2 separate regions of the Homo sapiens genome follow, and region 1 is linked to region 2. The links come from fine-mapping of genetic effects on gene expression. A gene starts in region 2. The other region holds a variant in brackets. All regions are shown on one strand. Distances are from middle to middle. Region 1 overlaps LINC02215 (long intergenic non-protein coding RNA 2215). Region 2 holds the start of LINC02208 (long intergenic non-protein coding RNA 2208).

Region 1 (9,398 bases), 48 kb before region 2:
TTGAAAACAGTTCATTACCAAGGAGAAGTACAGGCTTCAGTTTTCCTAGGCAGCATTTAGCACTTTTACTGGAATAGTAATTTACTTAAAATGTGAGGGTGATAGCAATTTCTGTGGATAAGTGACCACATAAGAGAGTCAAGTGGAGGAGGAGATGGGGAGGAAGAGAAAGAACAGGTCAGTGGCGTGGAGCTGTGCTCCTGAGGGGAGCGTTCTTTACATGAGGAATTTTCAGAATGATAAGTTGGCTTTTCTTTGGCTTAAAATGACATTTTAAACTTCAATCTAATTTTTGATTCAAACTTAAAGTCGGTGTAAATGAGGAACCTTGATGGACAGTACAGGATGAAGGAAGACAATCTTAGTGGGACCTTGGTTTACCCAACATTTCAAGAAAAGAACCGGCTTTCACAACGAGTAAGCTGGCCTGGGCTGGGCTGGGCAGGGCTGTGCAGGGGGTTGTCAGAAGCAAGGCTCTCTCGTGTCTACTTTAGTTTTACACTAGGTGATTAATACAACCAAAAGTCACCTTTAACCTGGAGAATAATTCAGCCCGTAACAGCTCATCAATCTGCTGTTGCTGTGCAGCAGCAAAAATTTAATACATAATAAATAATTTTTCACTGGCTCACAAGGAATAAAGATTTCTTTGTAAAAATATTTCCCATTTTAAGGTTAACTATCATCACACACCATTAATGCTTAATCATACACTTAATTTGAAATCCAAATACTGAAGATTTAAACTGAAATTTTACCCACACCATGAAATGATTAATTTGGTAACTTGTGATCTTTGCATGTGGTTCCACTACTTACAAAGATAGGATGTGGAGGAGGAGTTGTAAGAAAGCTGAGTGGGAACACGTTGAGTCAGGGTATGTGTTTATATAATGCATTTCGCAGACTACTTTAAATTTTACATGACAGACGTTTTAATAATACTTAGTATACACCAGGCGTTGTTATTAGCAAATAACAAATATTAACTCTTTAAATCATTATATCCACTCTATGAAGTAGATACTATTGTTATCATTCCTACTGTGCCGACAAGAAACAAAGGCACACAAGAGATTATAACCTCTGCCTGCATTAGTCTGTGCTGAAGATCACAAAGTGTATTAGTGATACAACCAGGAACCAAACCTGAATTGTCCAAATTAGAGTCTGTGTACTTAATCCATAAGCTAAATTGCCTCTCCAGGAAAAAACCTTCCACCTCTATGTGCTCTCTTCTTAAACCTAAGGAAGGAGGCCGTTTTCACCACTTCAGTTAAAGCTGTTTCATGTCCAGGAGGAAGTTGACTTTTGTAAGATCGTTGACCAGTGGCAAGGGGCACCATAAGTGCATTTTGAAGGAGTGGCTGTTCTGATCATTGGCCCTGCACTTACCTGAGCAGTCCCAAGAGAGGTGAAGACCAGAAAGGCCAAGTTCAACATTTTGTTTGCATCTGTATTAAAAGAGAAAGAAAACATGTGTGAACTTTCTCATGGATACAGAAGTAATGGCCTCTAGTAAGCGGGCTGAAGTGTGGTGAGTTGGAGACTCACTTTTCCTCACATGTCTTCTGTGTTACACAGGTGTTTTCAATACTGTGCAACTGTTAGTTTCATAATATTTTCCACAAAAAGAAATATCATTCGCCTGTAATCCCCAGCACTTTGGGAGGCCGAGGTGGGCCGATCACGAGGTCAAGAGATCAAGACCATCCTGGCCAACATGGTGAGACCCCATCTCTACTAAAAATACAAAAATTAGCTGGGTGTGGTGGCAGGCACCTGTAGTCCCAGCTACTTGGGAGGCTGAGGCATGAGAATCGCTTGAACCTGGGAGGTGGAGGTTGCAGCGAGCCAAGATCGTGGCACTCCAGTCCAGCCTGGCGACAGAGCAAGACTCCGTCTCAACAACAACAACAAAAATATTCTGTGTATATACCAATTAGTATAAGCCCGAACTCAGGGAGGTCTTTGCTGTAGAAATTCATGTAGAAATTACAAGTATCTGAGCAAAGGTAGATCAGGACAAGGGAAGCTGAGTTTGGGGGCTCTTAGGGAAAAATAACCCTTAGGAACTGGTGACTTGTGAGTTCTACCTCGTTAAGCTAGGTACCCAGTGATGGGAAGGGGAAGCATATCTGACAGGTTTCTACCATGGCCATCAGAGCTAATGATAACAGAGCAGATGGAGGTTGAGGAGATTTGGGAGGAGAGGGCACGTGAAATTTAGGTTATGTTGCATTGGTGTGGCCTGTTGAGCATCTAAAATACCAGGAGAACCCAGATACATGATCCTAATGCCTGCTGTGGCATTGATGCTTGATGCACATATGCTTGATGGGACTCTGAATCCTTGGAAGGGCCTTATTTTGACAACTTGCCAGTTGAAAATGTCAGTAGGGGCTAGTGCACATGTATCTAGGCTGATATTTTTGCATTATAGACATGTCTTTAAATCTAATAGCAGAATTAGGTGCCATGAGTTAAAATACATATGATTAAGTCCAGACGTGGTGGCTCAGGCCTGTAATCCCAGCACTTTGGGAGGCCAAGGCTGGTGGATCACTTGAGGTCAGGAGTTCGAGACCAGCCTGGCCAACATAGTGAAACCCTATCTCTACTAAAAATACAAAAAATTAGCTGAGAGTGGTGGTGGGCACCTGTAATCCTAGCTACTCGGGAGGCTGAGGCAGGAAAATTGCTTGAACCTGGGAGGTAGAGGTTGCAGTTAGCTGAGATCATGCCACTGCACTCCAGCCTGGGCAACAGAGTGAGACTCTGTCTCAAAAAAAAAAAAAAAAAACAAAAACCAAAAAAAAACCCCAAAACCCAGAAACATACAATTAAGTGTTTTTTAGAGCTGTGGTTAATCAGATCATGATAGTCAAATGAATAAATTTTAAACCCTTATTAATGTTTTTAATGCTAGGCATTTACAGTTAAAATCAATATTTTTCTCAAAGTAATGACTCTAGATATTGGATTATATCATTTAGGCATAAAACTTTCTGATAAATATGCACTGGGAAATGATTTCACATCTAACTTTTCTTTCAGGGAAAGTGGAAAAGTTAAAGGGTTTGGACAAAACCACATATAACAATGTACTTAGTGTAAAAATATTTTTTAAATAATAAATGTGCATTTAAAACATTGTGAAAATTTGGTTTCTGTAACACTATGAATCCTAAAAGGCAATACAAAGTATTGTTAATCAACTGTTGGATTAATGTTTATTATAACCAAAAATTTTTATTTAGAATTTTCAAAATTATTATAAAGTAGAATTGCATATTTTATATGCTGCAATACTTTGGGGCCCCTCATCATTAATGTGTGGACTAATAGGAACATAGTTTTAATATAAGCTTAACTCCATTCTTTGCTTCACTGAGGGTCTAAAGTACAAGTTCTTTCTGCTTTCAAGGAAAGGGAGATTTAGAAAGTTTGTTTCGTGTGATAATTAAGGGCATGAGCCCTGGAGATAAACCACACAGGTTCAAATCCCCTCTCTAGCACTGATTAGCTGTGTGGCTTTGGGAAAATTATTTTTTCTGTGCTACAATTTTATAATCTATAAAAGGGGAATAAAAGTTACACCTACCTCTGATAGATGTGGGTATTAAGTGAGTTAATACATATAAAGCAACTAAACCAATGTATGCATATACTAAATATTTAATTAACATCAGATATTATTAGTTTTTGATTGGCTCTAGATCTGGTAGTAATCAAGGCCTTGCACTATCAAGGCCTATTATAAAAGACTACAGAGAAAGAATAATAACCGCTCGCTTGTTGAGTGCTTACTGTGTATCAGACACTTTTCAAGGCACCTTTTATGTACTAAAGAAAAGGGAATTTATAGGCACAGAAAAATTGTTTTTGATAAACATAGAGAAGAAATTTTCCCTGTGTCTGAAAGATCCTCTAAATTGGCGAGAGAGACCATGGGTCCTAGGAAAAGAATGGGTTTGGGTCATGCTTCCTAACAGCACAGCCCCGAGAGAAAGTTGGGGGTTGGTGCTTCTGGGACAATGGGATCATAGGCACTTTTGTAAAGAAAAATTCCTGATGAGAAGATTTCTATCATGGAAACAAAGGTCCATCAAGAATAGACTATGAAGAGTAGTGTCATTGTTTCAGCACCCAGAATCTTTGTGGTTCTTGTATTGACCTGCAATATTGGTCAGCTGTCACCAGAGGGTGCCCTGTCCACATCTGCCCAAAAAGACTAGATTAACTCTCCTTCCTATGGACATACAGGAAAGATTTTATTAATGGCAGCTAGAGTAGTGTCCTTCCATCAGGGGACATACCTGTCCAGTACAGT[G/A]ACTGACTTACTCCATGTGAACGTCCATCCTCGTATCACAACACTCCAGCATATCTGCAAGACCAGAAGATGGTAGCGGGGCGCCGATCAATCAGTTGAATGGGACGGTGTTATCGTGGAGCTGAATTGAACCCTCTTAAAACCCCCTGTGCTGTGGCAGCAATAAATGATCCCTACAATGCATTAATATTCAGTGTATATTTGGGCTTATTTTAGAGACTTAATAAAAGTATAGTGGCTGGACATGGTGGCTCATGCCTGTAACCCTAGCACTTGGGATTAGGAGGCAGGAGGGAGGAGGACTGCTTGAACCCAGGAGTTTGAGACCAGCCTGGGCAACATAAGGAGACCTCATCTCTACGAAAAAAGTATGTCCTATAGCAAGATAGAAGAGGTAGATTCTATACATTCTACACTTATATTTCCCCAAATCTGTGTGAGCCTATGTGAACCCAGGCAAGTCATTTAATGTTACCCATTTCCATCATCTGAAGAATCAAGGGGTTGGGTTACAAGATGATACATAAAATTTCTAATAGTTTCTCTAAGATTTGGAACTCAAATGGATGATTGTGAATGCCTATAGAAGATCATGGTGAAATCTTTGAAGCGAGCTGGTAATGTAGTGCTAGTATTTGCAGATTGATAGGCATGAGTGCTGATAAAAGGAGAGAGAGGTCATTGGAGCAGGCTTTGATGATGGATGTGACTAGTTGATCAAGGGAAGAAAAACAATAGGCTGGAGAATGGAAAGAAGATGATGACTGCTGGAGTAAGTAATTAAGATTCTTATCCTCTGGTGACATTAGGCAGGGTTCTGGAAATCTTCATGCCTTGGGTGGATTTGCAGACTAAACTCAATAATTTATTGTTCATTTTTGTTCTCCTTACATTATTTGAGCTCCTTAACCCTGAGAACTTAAAGAAGAATGGAAAGCTATGCATTAAAGATAGAAATAGTGGCAGGAATATTTTCTTAGCTTCTTGGTTTCCTGTACTTGGCTCCAGGATGCAGACTTTCACAAATTCAGGCACACTTTCTTTAGGGAGGAATGTGGCTTAGAGTTAAAAGATGTTAACACTCCTTGGGGACTATTCTTATAGCTGCCTGAGTGGCAGGGTACTGTGACCTTGAAGAGAACCAAGGAGAAAGAACAGGTTTCAGGAGATAGGTATCATGCCAGTTGTAGCAATTGTGACCCATCCAGCTTCTGTGCATCAGAGTTGAACCATCTTTTCACTGGTTTCTCTCCTTGAAAACATTAAAAGTGAGTATTTATCTCTCGTTGGCTTATTTATTCCTCAGACTCAAAATGGAGAATGCATTGAATTATTTTCTCTGACATAGAGATAAAGTTTTTATACACTTAGAAAGCTCTTTCTTTGTTATTTTTTTGGTTTCAGTATATCAGTAGAGAGTTATCTTTTCATATATAATACTAACTTTTTAGATTTTTAACATTGTTATGGTAGTTTTAGTTTTCTTTTTTTTTTAACAAAAGGGGGAGATAAATCTGTGGATGAATGTTTCCTTACCTAGGCTGAAATCTCTTAGATATTTTCTTTTCTGTAAACCTCTGAGGCAGATGGTTTCAAACTTTCTCACTTTCAGAAACTTAGTGCCCTTAGTGATTCAGTATATTTTTCACAGTCACGCCTAGGCCAAAAGAAAAACCTAGCAGTTGTGTTTATTAAGTACATAGCTCCAAACAATTTAAGTATTTATACCTAACAACTTAACAGCTTTATGAAAAAATAATATACATAAGTTACCTGTGAGATTACTGTAGTATCCGAGAACACCTTGGCAAACAGTTTGGGAACCATGACTCTCAGAATAGATAACCGCAGATGGAATTTAAAGAAATTCCCACTGCAGTAGAGAGTTAGGTGGACAACTAACAACTTCTATATGGCCTGTCATTATCCAGATGGTGGGAAGCTGAGACATTACAATCTGGGCAACTAGAAAGGCAGGTGTGGTAGTAGCAGGAAGGAAAGTTGATGGCCTTCTTGGGAAAAAGCTGAGAGAAAATCCTTGGCTAATTCTAACTCAAGGAATGCAATGAAGGTCCTTGGAAGACAGAGTCAAGTTCGTTCCAGTGTCCCCACCTCAGTGATTGCTGGTGAGGTGAATGGATTTTATACATGTAAAGTGCCCAGATAGTCTCAAGTCTCAGTCTTTATGCAGTCTCATAATGTAATGTTTGATATATGCATTATATAAATTTTGCTGCTACTTAAATTCATTGATGAAACTCTGTGGAGTGTGAGTCCTACCCCTGCATTTCAGATAACACCAAGAGTGCAAGAACTGGGGCAATATGCTATCTATCAGTGTTCCTTATGGAATTTGGGTGTTACATCTTTTTTTTTTTTTTTTTTTTGTTTTTGAGATGGAGTCTCGCTCTGTTGCCCAGGCTGGAGTGCAGTGGCGCGATCTGGACTCACTGCAAGCTCCGCCTTCCGGGTTCACGACATTCTCCTGCCTCAGCCTCCCGAGTAGCTGGGACTATAGGCACCCGCCACCATGCCCGGCTAGTTTTTTGTATTTTTAGTAGAGATGGGATTTCACCGTGTTAGCCAGGATGGTCTCGATCTCCTGACCTCGTGATCCACCTGCCTCGGCCTCCCAAAGTGCTGGGATTACAGGCGTGAGCCACTGCGCCCAGCCTGGGTGTTACATCTTAATAATACTTGCTATTATAACATTTCCCAGAGTGTGTTCCATGGGAATTAATTGATGCTACTTGAAAATAATGTTCTGCAATTAGACGTGTTTGATGAATGCTGGGTTAAAACAAATTATGCTGGGCTTCACAGAGCCTTTAATATGTTAGTCTACATTGTAAAGCTTCGGGAGGAGAGATAATAGCATAATTTATTCCCTAAGCTTCATTGATCAAGGAAACTTTTTATATTGAATGAAACATCTTATAGATTCATGTTTCATAGAATATACTTGGGGTGAGTAGTTCCAAAGGATCTTTTTAACCTATTTCTTTTGAATTATTTGAATAGATATTTACTGATCAGGGCTCTGATTTATCTGATATTGTCTTTCACGTTGGGATTACAAATTGAACCCTAACGTTATTTTTATGAGAAAGGACAATGTATTTTAAATCAGTTCTTTTGCACACTAGTTTTCTTCAATGCACCATGGTTTAGGTGTGAATCATCTGTATAGTGTGATTGCGTTTCCAACATTCTAATGCTGAATTATGTATATAACACAATTCATAATTTACTGACAATTTCCTTGCAGATGAGTGCTTCTAGTCATCAGAATATAACAATGCACATTTATTTCCAGTTATCCACAAAGTCTTCAAGCCTAATAATACATGTTTTTTAAACTTGTATTATTTAAAGGGGGAACCTTTTAAATTCCTAAGTATATGCTGTATCACATAAGTTTGGTGCCCCCATTAAAAACATAACAAACCCTCTTGCCTTTCTAGGTTTTGGATAAGTTGGCAAAAAACCAGAGAAAATGTAGATACCAAAATATCAAATATAAAGTCTGTTATTGAAATGGTCAGGTTAATATTGAACTCCAGAATTAGGCAGACATAACCGTTCAAATCCAGTTAGCATTAGAGTGAGGTAGGCCTCCCCCTACACAACTTATGCCAAACATATGCTTTCCTCAGATAAAGCTAGTTGTACAGAAGAAGGAAGGGGGCTGAGTCTTGCATCCTTCTACTGCCCCCATTTTACCTGGTCCCTAGGAGTAGTGTGAGACTGGGACAAGTGATCTGGGATTACACTGATTAGCATGCTTCACAGGAGGGAAATATAAGGAGAAAGGAAGAAGTATTTCTCAGTAACATCCGAGTTAGCCAGGAAGGCTCAGGAAATCCCTGTTTGGTGATGAGATCATTGTATCATTGTTTAGAGATTTCTAATTCATGATGCAATGTATTTTTAAATGGTAAGTTTTAGAAAGCTTGTTTTTATAATTCTAAACTCTTTCAGACATCAGTTGTGTATCTAATCTTTTGTTTACAGGACCTACTCAATCTAAATCAGAAAAAGAACAGGCTGAAGCTACAAATAAGATAAAAAGAAGTAGAAATGACTGTCTTGTATTTATAAAATGGCGATCATGAGATTTCATGTTAATGACTGACTACCGAGACATGCTATTTGGCTCTATGTGTCTGTTTCCCACAGAAAGGATGTCAGGCCTGGTGTTGATGGGCAAGCTGTCCAGAACATGGGTACCACACGTGCAGCACGGGCTCGGGCCTCAGAGTCAGGCACGCTGGAGCACTCATTGCAGCTCAGGTGCCACCCACAGGGCGAGCTCACACATGCTCACTCTGGTGAGTGCTGATAGCAGAAAGGATGCCTAGGCTCTCCTTCTATATGAAGAAATTAAATACATTATTTAGGACTAATTTTAAATTAGCTAGGTCTCTTTTTTAAATGAAAAAAAAAAAACTGGGAGAAGGATGATTTGACATTATGAAAGCAGTTTGTAAGGGCTTTTCATATAAAGCAACTCTAGAGGAACTAGAAGTGTGAAGACACCCAGGCAAACTTTGGTCTCCAGGTTAATTCAGGGCAAGTTAAAAGAGGAGTCTGTCCAAACCTGGGGTAGAATCCCAGGGTGAGAAGCAGTGTTTGAGCTGTTGACACTTAATAACAAATAAAACTAATAGTAGTGCAGATATTTGTATTTATTTAAATCTCTTTCTAACTGAATGTCTTTAAAACACAGTATAAAGAGATTAGGAATACTTTTTAAAATAAATTTTAGTGATCTTAATATTGAGGCTTTATTTTTTTAAGTGAAAAGAGTTAGTAAGGTAAAGGTATCCCTTCTTCTCTCCTTCCTTTTTTTTCTTCTGTTGAATTCACCACATTTACGGGAGAACTGAATATCCAATGTTGATGTCATAACCATGCACTCCTCCTCTTTCTGATAGTTGTATATCCAAATAATAGGTCGAATATCTCAGAGAAAATAGCTATGTTCTTAAGTGCTTTGTTGTTGTGTCTTAAATATATACAATGTTTTAAATATATACAATGAAATATATACGTAAGGGTTTAT
Region 2 (9,398 bases):
TCTGGACAGGCCCCACACCACTGGACCCCTAGAAATTTTGCTGAGGTAGAAGCTCCCTGAAGTTTATTCGGATTTATTTTCCATCGTCTGGCAAGCAAATATTTCACCAGTAAGTCCAGTGTGTTTCCTACTTCTTGCTCACTGGGTCCAATCAGCGTAATGTCATCAATGTAATGGACCAGTGTGATATCTTGTGGAAGGGAAAAGTGATCAAGTTCTCTCCAAACAAGATTATGACACAAAGCCAGAGAGTTGATATACCCCTGAGGTAGGACAGCAAAGATATATTGCTGGCTTTGTCAGCTGAAGGCGAATTGCTTCTGGTGGGCCTTATGGACAGGCATGGAGAAAAAGTCATTTGCCAAATCAATGGCTGCATACCAGGTACCAGGAGATGTGTTAATTTGCTCAAGCAATGAAACCACATCTTGAACAATACTTTGCATCCTTCAGTCAAGTTGACACTCAATATTAATCATCACATACCCCCTTGTCCATACCTGTGTGTGTCTATAGGAACATTCCGGAACGCAGCGGCTTTGGTAAAGCCTGATCCCTGGGTCATAGCCCAGCTTAATGGCATGATGACTGCAGTTAATTAACCCATCCATTTAAGAGACAGAAGCAAGAAGCACATTTCTGAGCTCCAGACAGTTTTGAGCATCAGAATAGTTTTAGAGAAAGTAAGATATTTTGAAATTATACAGTGATCTCTATTAAAGTGATAACAGCTGGTACCAACTTCGCAAATCATGGAATTTTTTAAGAAAGATCAACCGCACACTTGTGAAACCCCGCCAGACTAATATCATCAGGGATTATAGGAGAAGCACTTACTACTGTCAAGTCAACACATAGCCTAGTTGACCTTTTATAAATGGATGAAAATAAGTTCAGCAAACCCCAGCAAGATATATTGAAAGATAGGCTGGAGGTGAATGGTAGGAGGTCTGAGCAATTTCACTAACCCAGCCAATCAGCAGTAATTGGTAAAGTGCCTTCTCCCCTGAGAGCCTGGGGAGATGTGTGGCTGCCGATTGGTGAGCTGGTGATTGCTTGGAGGGTTTTTATCGACTCTCTTTGCTGCTTTTTGGGTGTATTTCTCCCACGAGCTTTAACAATAATGCCCATGAATCTGAACCTCCTGACTGGTAAATGTTCTCTGGCCTTGACAATAAGTGTTTCAGCTTTGCTTCAATGTTTGTTTTCTGCCAGTGCTGTGGCCTGGATGCCCTGCAGTATCTATCTTGCAGCCTGAGGCCATTATTGGGCAGCACGTTGCCATTTTCTCCAGCATTATTTCTTTTAAATATTTCTCACTGAAAATGAGTCACTTTGAGATGATTACACCATAGTCATCTGTGGGATCCATAAGCAGTTTTGTCAGTGTGTGTCTAATTTTGGTCTCCCGTTCTTTGTCCTATGTAAGGCACATCTAGAGGGCCCATCTTTCTCTGGTATTTGGATACAATTCTTTAACCAGTGATTTTACTTTTTCCTCTGCTCACTCCCAGCCAAAAATCATCATTTACTTAGATCCCATGGTATGAAACATGTTTCACAATTGTGAACCTAAGCTTGGTACTTTAACTGAGCACACATCTCACAGAAATCCCGGAGTGGCCTCCCAGGAGACTGAAATCTAAGGGCAACAGGATCAAGCCCTCACAATGAAATGGGACGCAGGCTGGCCCATCTTTCTCTGTGGCTAAGTAATGAGGCTTGTTATTTACAGTGCCCTGTTTACTTGCTGACTCTGTTAGCGTTTTTCTTTTCAATTTGGATCTCGGCCCACATGGTAACCCTCTCACGAGGCACGTGCCATTTTGATTTTAAAATAATAGGAAGAATGCTCCAGCGCTGCTTGTTGGTGCTACGACTCTCAAACTGTCTATAGATTGCCAAGTAAGTGGAATGTTTTGACAGAGAGAAATATGTGTTGTCAACATTGCTTTATCCATGGTTGAGAAGAAAAATTGAAACGACTTCGGCAGGGTTCAGACGTTGATGACTGGAATGATCTCCTTGAAACAAATGACTACAGACCATTTTGTTTTCCTTTACGCCTCATTCTACTCTAATGAAATGCCCAATTAAAAGCATAGCTTATGTGCTTAAAAGAAAAAGCTTAGAAAGGATTCTTGGATGGAGCTGTGCCCGCAGTAATCCTTCACCACAGGAGAAAATCATAGTATCTTTGTAAAGAAACAATATCATGTTGTGACTTCCAGTGGCCTGCATGGCAGTTTTAGAGGAGACCCAAAATGAATGTAACCTTTTTAAGATAGAAAGGTTGTGTGTGTATTTCTGTGTGTGCCTGTGTGTGTGTGTGTGTGTGTGTGTGTGTGTGTGTCAGACAGACAGAGAGAAACATGATTTATTTGTGATATATCAAATGGCAGACACTGGTTGGAAATAGAAAAGAAAAAAGAGTTCCCAGTAGAGTGATACATTTAGGACAACTTGTGAATTTGTCTCTGGGATTAAGCGGAGTATGGAACTATGCAGCTGTGTGTTGTCTCCTAGCAAAATGAGGTTCCCTCTGTTTCTCTGGCAGGCAAGTTCCTATCGAAAGCTTATTGGGAGTGGGAACTCAGACAGCTTGCAGAGCCCTGCTGACCATTATCTTCACGTTCAGGTCTGCGTTGTGGGAGCTACTCTCTATTTTCTTGCTTAGTGAACACTCTTGACAAAAGAAAATGTTGACAGCTTTGCCTTTCTTGAGAATCACTAAGGAAACATTTCATCTTGTCAATCTCCTTTCATGTGCTGTGCAGGAGAAGAGAAAGGGAATATTGCTTTGGAGCATAGCCTTGACTTTCAACATGCATTTAACAATTAATATTTTCTTGAGCACCTACTATGTGCTAGAGTATTTGCTAGTCATTACCAGTCAGACAAAGATGAATGGAGCTAAGTCCCTATTCTTAGAGAGCTTAGCACATTCTCATTTTAAAATCAGTTGCCTCATTAGAAGGGCTATAAAAGGGATGCAGATAAAGTAATAAGGGAATTTGTATCATTTGGACTTCCTCACGTGACCCACTCCATGGCTTCTGGAACTAGGCAGATCTGAGTTTGAACATTATTACCCATGACATTGGCTGGCACAGTGTATTTTAAGCTATGTCTCCATTTCTGTCAGTTTTTAAATGAGGATAGTGACACCTACCTTGCAGGGCTGTTGGGATGAGTAAATGAGATACTGTGTGTACAGTGTAAAGCAGTGCTTGGCACAGGTGAGTCCACCTGGAATGGCAGCTTCCTTCCTACCTCCTTTATGCCACGCTGCATCCCCTGTCAGTCATACAGATGCCTCTCACAAACCTGCCTGCACCTTACAAGTGAACCACAAGCATTAAGATGGCTTCTTGAGGCTGGGTGTGGTGGCTTCCGCCTGTAATCCTAGCACTTTGGGAGGCCAAGGTGGGTGGATCACTCGAGCCTAGGAGTCCAAGAATAGCCTGGGCAATATGGCAAAATCTCAGCTCAACCAAAAAAAAAAAAAAAAAAAAAATTAGCCAGGCGTATTGGTGTGTACCTGTAGTCCCAGGTACCTCGAGGCTGAGGCAGCAGAATTGCTTGAGACTGGGAGGCGGAGGTTGCAGTGAGCCCAGATGAAAACACTGCTCTCCAGCCTGGGTAAAAAAATAAATAAATAAAAATAAAAATAAATGGCTTCTTCAACTGTGTTGTAGCTCTGGCATGTAAAGAAATCTAACACATGGTAGTGACCATATAATAGTGAGGATGTTTTTTAAAACTAATTTTCCAAAATTTACATGCAAATGATTCTTGGCCTCTTTAAGGAATGATAATACATGGGAGGCGTTAGTCAGAGGCTACCCACCAATATTCTGGCCTTTCTCCTGCCAAAAACCTGGCACGGTTCTACTCCTCCAACACTGTGGAAGTTGGGTATGCCATGTGACTTTATTTAACTAATGGAATGTGAGCAGACGTGACTTGTGTCACTCCCAGGAGAAAGCTTTAAAAGATCCACTTACACTGCCACCACCATCATGGAAGCAAATGTTGAGATGGGGCTTGTGTCAGCCTAGACCTGTGCGATATCACAAGGAGTAGAGTCCTTGTGATAATCCATGTGAAAAATACAGCAGGGGTGAGAAATTGATTTTTTTTTTTTTTGCATTGTATCACTGAGATTTTGCAGTCTTTTGTTCATGGTCTGCCTAGATTAACATAGGAGATTATACACCTATTTCAACAATTCTGTTTTTGCTTAAAACATTGAAGTGATTCTTCTGGTGGTATTGCTGTCAGGGGCAGCATTTGACAACCACACTCTCAGTGTAAAGCCATACTTGCTTTCTGCCCTATAGTAGTATTGCCAGGCTTGACCCTCTGTTTTATTCATTAGATTTGACTCTGCATCTGGTGAAAAGAATAGATTGGACATCATTGAGCCTATTGGGATGAATACACCCTTCAGAAACAGTGGCAGGCAGAGGCTGGGCAGCGGGGGATATGAAGGCAGTTTACCCAGGGTGCAGGCAATAAGAAGATATATTGTCTATAGAAATGTTTAAAGAAATAGAACTGATTAAGATACAGTGTCTTTTGTATTACCATCACAAGTCTATAATTCTAAACAATTTTAGGGAGAAAATACTCCTCCCTTCCCCACTCCTGTTTTCCCCCCTCCTTGCGCAACTACTCAGAAAGCAGTTACAATGAGATTCAAAACTTGAAAAACAGAACTGTGAATTAGAATGTGTTGCCTTATTATGGCAAGTGTTTTGAAATAGATAGCTTTCACGTGGAATATTTATTTAAAAGAAAAAATAAAAATTATTCTATTTTAGGGTTGTTCTTGGTACATTAATTTGGACATTGGCTTAGGAATTTGTAGCTAGTCATATGAACGTTTATGTAAATCTTTCTGTCTAAATTGTTATATCCGTGAGGGCGGGGCTGGGCCTCATTCATCCTTAGGTGTTCATGGGGTCTGGCCAGTACTGTAGTCCGGTACACATAATTGCCCCCCATATATATATATATGAGTCTATATATATATATATATATATATATATATATAGTATATATATATATATATATATATACTATATATATATATATATATATATATATATATAGACTCAAACTAGGCTGGCAGTGAAATGATATTTTTCTTTTGCTTTTTTTTCAGTTATGTGTATGAGAAGCAGGGCGATATCTCCGGCCCACTTCTTTGACAGGTTCTCTTGTTGCTGATGCTGAGAAACTCCAGGAGCCTGCTATTTGTAGAGAGAAGTGTGTTCCAGCTGCTGGTGCTAACAAAGATCTGAGGTTATACACACATGACCTATCACCCACACCCACCCGATTGGGAGGGGTTGCCTCTCCCTGTGTCCACACATATGCCTTGAGTTGCTCTTCAGTGAATATCACTTTTCCTTTCATGTTTTTTCTACATGCTATTATCTGTATGAAATGAAGACCAAGAAAGGATGGGAAGAAGGAGAAGAAAAATTTTGATTTATCTCAGAAACTATACTCCGAAGTGAGAGTCCTGGTTGCAGGTAGGATTTTGTTGGTGATCATTAGAGGGATGAGGGCTGAGAGAACAATTTGAATGTTGCCTATTTCTCCAGGCTGGGGTGGGAGTGGGAAATATGAAGGCAATTTGCCCAGGGTGCAGGCAATAAGAAGATATATTACTTATAGAAATATGAATGAATATAACACTTATAAAGATTATATAGTTGGGATTGGCCCACAGTAGTTGATAATAACGAGAAGTTCTTGGAGACCAGATCATAGTGAACTTGGCCTTAGGGAAATAATTATCGTCTTGAACTCTGATTGTTTTATGGGTAAGTTATGGCATTGAGAGGTGTGTGAGGGGATGCTTAGGCCAGAAGGAGTCTTTTTACCATTTTGAATGTCCACCTTAATGTTTCCTGGGTGAAGTTCCAAGATTTGCAGGGAGCATGCACAGCCTCTGGCCTGTATGGAGTCCATCCCATCTTCCAAGGGTACTTGTAGATGGAGATTAGTCTTGGGTAGGCCATCTTGTGAATTGGAGCCAGTGTTCAGTGCTGGACAGATGTCAACTGGAACTTTCAGATATAGCCCAAGTTCTGGGACTATGAGAAGCCAAACAACCCAGGAATTTTCCTTTGTACTATTTTCCAGAAAAGGGTAGAGTCATTTTTGAGCTCCTGGGGTAAGATGGTAGAATGCAGAGAAACTAGAAAGTATCTACATTTCTCTATTGCAAGCTCTGTACATCTAGATTTGACAGTAAGAATTTGGTTGACTGATATGTAAGTGCTTTTGCACTTACAGACTCGACATGAGATTCAAATGAAAGGGACACAAATGTTTGGTTTTGCTTTTACTCCTTGAGAATAAATCCTGGACTTTACAAATATCCTTTCTAGAAAGAACAACTGAGTGAGAAACCCTAAACTGATACTGAATAAAGCAAGTATGTCTCACAGAATATCTGATTTAAAAAAAAAATTCCTGCTTTAGGAAATGTGTGTGTGTGTATATATATATATATACACACACATATACATATCTATACATATATGTATACACACACAATCATACATATATAGATTATATATGTATCTATATATATTTCTTGGATGTCTTATATTAAGCTTTGGTAGATAAGTGGACTTAGGGACCATAATTACCACCATTTTCCTTATAGAAAGTCTTTGAGTAACTTAGACTATGATCTCTTTTGTTTTTGTCCATTTGCCATTTGTTATTCAGACAATACAACCCCAAGCATGACCTTGGGCACGTTACTTAACAGTTTTAAGCCTGTCATCTATAAAAAGTCAGGGTTGGACCCAGTGACTTCTGAGGTCCCCACTTGCACCAGCAGTCTCTGATTTGGTTGCATGGGGAGACAGCTGTCACAGTTGAAGCCATGTGTGCCTCTCCCACATCACTCCTTTTCTAGAGCTTGCATTTTCCTTAGTGCCTGAGAAATACCGTTTTATAGATGCATGCCTTAGAACGGTATTTTCTCTTTTCATTGTAAAGGAAGGTTTTAGACTTTGCAACAAACGTTCTGGATAGAATGGACAATTAAAAACATGATTGAAACATGATTTTTAGGTATCCACATTATTTCACAAGCTCATTCCTTTCATCTCTACTTTGTCAAGGATTTAGGCAGCTTGTTTCTTTGACTTTCATCACATATCTTTTTTCCTTCCTGTTCAAAATAAGCTCTGTTTCCTTTTTCCTGGCTAGATGAAAGCCTGTGGACTCTGTGCTTCCTGATATCAACCCAACAGTGGTGGTAGAGGGGTTCACATCACTCCAGATAGTCAGTTTCAAAGAATAATAGTTTGGAGACTGTGGGATGAAAAACCAGCTTGAGTTTTCCTCTTCAGATCTCTCCAATACACACTGTCTATGTATTATTTCAGAACACCCATTCAAAAGTAGACTGTTTCCTTCCCTGACTTGGCACCAAATCAAGAAGTGGCATATAATGTATTGTTGTGTTTATTATGCATCATTTTGCTGCTGACACTGTGGCCATCAAATATTGGAAGATTTACAACCACAGAGGTCCAGCCATCATGCCTGAAGTGAAGGACAAAGTACTCTGTTATTCATCTTCAGCTCTGGCCCTTTATGATCAGACAGTGAGCTATATACTTATCAAAGTCAAAATAACCTTCACTTTAGAAAACATAGTTGTCCTTAATTGCCAGAATAGGAATGCATAAACAGCCTCTCTCTTGATAATGGAATGGAGGCTGAATTGATGTAAGTTTTAAGTATTTTGTAATTTTCCAATTGTGGTGCGCTCAATTAAGTTTTAATTCACAAATTATGCATGTATTATACTGGCAAAGAGAAAAAATATTTGTAGTTTTAAACTATACTATCTAAATATGTTATACACATTTGTGCCATGTTTTTGTTTTTTTTTTTCCTCTGAATCAAAGCTATGGCTGGTAGTCCTATTTCTATGCCCTGGTATATAGCAGTTTAGAGCTTGGATGCTGAAACTGGAAAGATGTAAGTTTGAATCCTTGGCTATCCCTGGAACACAGGCAAATGCCTTAGTTTATTCCTCTGTAAAAAATAGTAATAATCATAATAGTACCTACCTTCTAGACAGGAGTATTAAGAATTAAGTGAGATTGTGTATGTTGAAAGATGCTTAGCTCAGTGCCTGGTACATTATGAAAACTCAAGGAATATTTGCCATGATTGTTATTACTCCTTTCTTTCTATTATTGTTAAAAACAGCAGTCCAGAGAAAACATGTATTTCCAAGACCTTCATATCAAAGAGGCAGGAATGAAATGTTACTAGCATTTTATAAATATATACGTATGTTATGGTACTAGGTGGCTTTTGGGAGACATGTAGTTATAAGAGTGAGACAGAGATGACTCAGAAACCAGAAGGCAGCAATGAAAATAGTTCTTACTTGAAAAGGCATTTGTTTAATATGCTTACTCAAGATATATCTTACATAAGATATAAGATATATCTTAGAATTAGTTAAATCTATATAGTGGCTATATGAGCATTTAAAGTTACAGATGTTTATTTGGAAATAAGCAAGTTTTAATATGTGAATAGTAACCCCATGTCTACAAGTTGCAGTGTGGCCAAATGTAAATGGCAGAACAAATTTAGGAAATGAGCTCTAACTCTATTTTGGGAAAGACAAGGGGAATCTCTGGAATTTGGTCTTTGTTCCTAGCTAAGACCTGGAGGTGATTTTAATTGACAAGTATCTTCTGAGCAGTAAAATCAGGATGACAGCATTTGCTTTCCTGGGTGGTAAAAAATCCTCTCTAATAATGGTGGGTGAGTTGCTGGTGAATGAAGAAATGGGCTTGAGAAATGCTGGGAAATAAAATGACTGGCAACTTTAGTTTCAGAGCAATAGGCCTGTGAGTTTTCTTCATTGTTATTTTTGCTGTTCTTTCTGGTGTCATTGTAAAATTAAGTATAGACAAATGAACTGTTAATGGTCTAGAATTTCAGACCAATAGTCTGCCCAGAAACCACAAGACAAGCAATAGGGGACTCTATTTGATATGAAAATTACAGTAGGATTATTTTTATCTCTTCCTTTCCCCTCTTTCTTCTTTACCTCTTTAATAACGACAGGTAAAACTGACACCAAAAAACAAAAGTCTTACCCAAATCCATTGTAAAGTTCCCATTCAGGTGTGTATTACATAAAAATTGCTTAGCTTTCACAAGAACCACCCTTCTGAGAAGAAGAACCATGATGCATATTAATAGGTGAAGAGAGCTTCCTTGGGAAGGACCATAAACCTTGGAGGCCATAAACTCTGGAATTGGATTCCAGAATGAAAGAGCTATGAAAGCCCAGAGGGCAGGCTAAGTATGTGTTGGGACAAGTAAATAAA

Evidence for each region. PIP is the estimated chance that this variant, and not a neighbour inherited with it, causes the effect. A credible set is the group of variants that fine-mapping cannot tell apart.
Region 1: its variant is the best candidate, but not a certain one, in a credible set for the expression of LINC02208 in thyroid (GTEx, PIP 0.62).

Annotation. Positions count from the first base shown.
Region 1 is chr5:118,606,349-118,615,746 of GRCh38, reverse strand. LINC02215 (long intergenic non-protein coding RNA 2215) reads right to left here. Exons shown (of 5, transcript NR_104998.1): 2 at 5,870-6,008; 3 at 4,320-4,387; 4 at 1,396-1,454. Among named protein-coding and RNA genes, the nearest start is that of LINC02215, 15 kb to the right of the region's middle. The variant G/A (reference allele first, on the strand shown) is at 4,334.
Region 2 is chr5:118,558,066-118,567,463 of GRCh38, reverse strand. It overlaps LINC02208 (long intergenic non-protein coding RNA 2208), which reads left to right and starts at 5,347. Exons shown (of 10, transcript NR_104610.1): 1 at 5,347-5,543.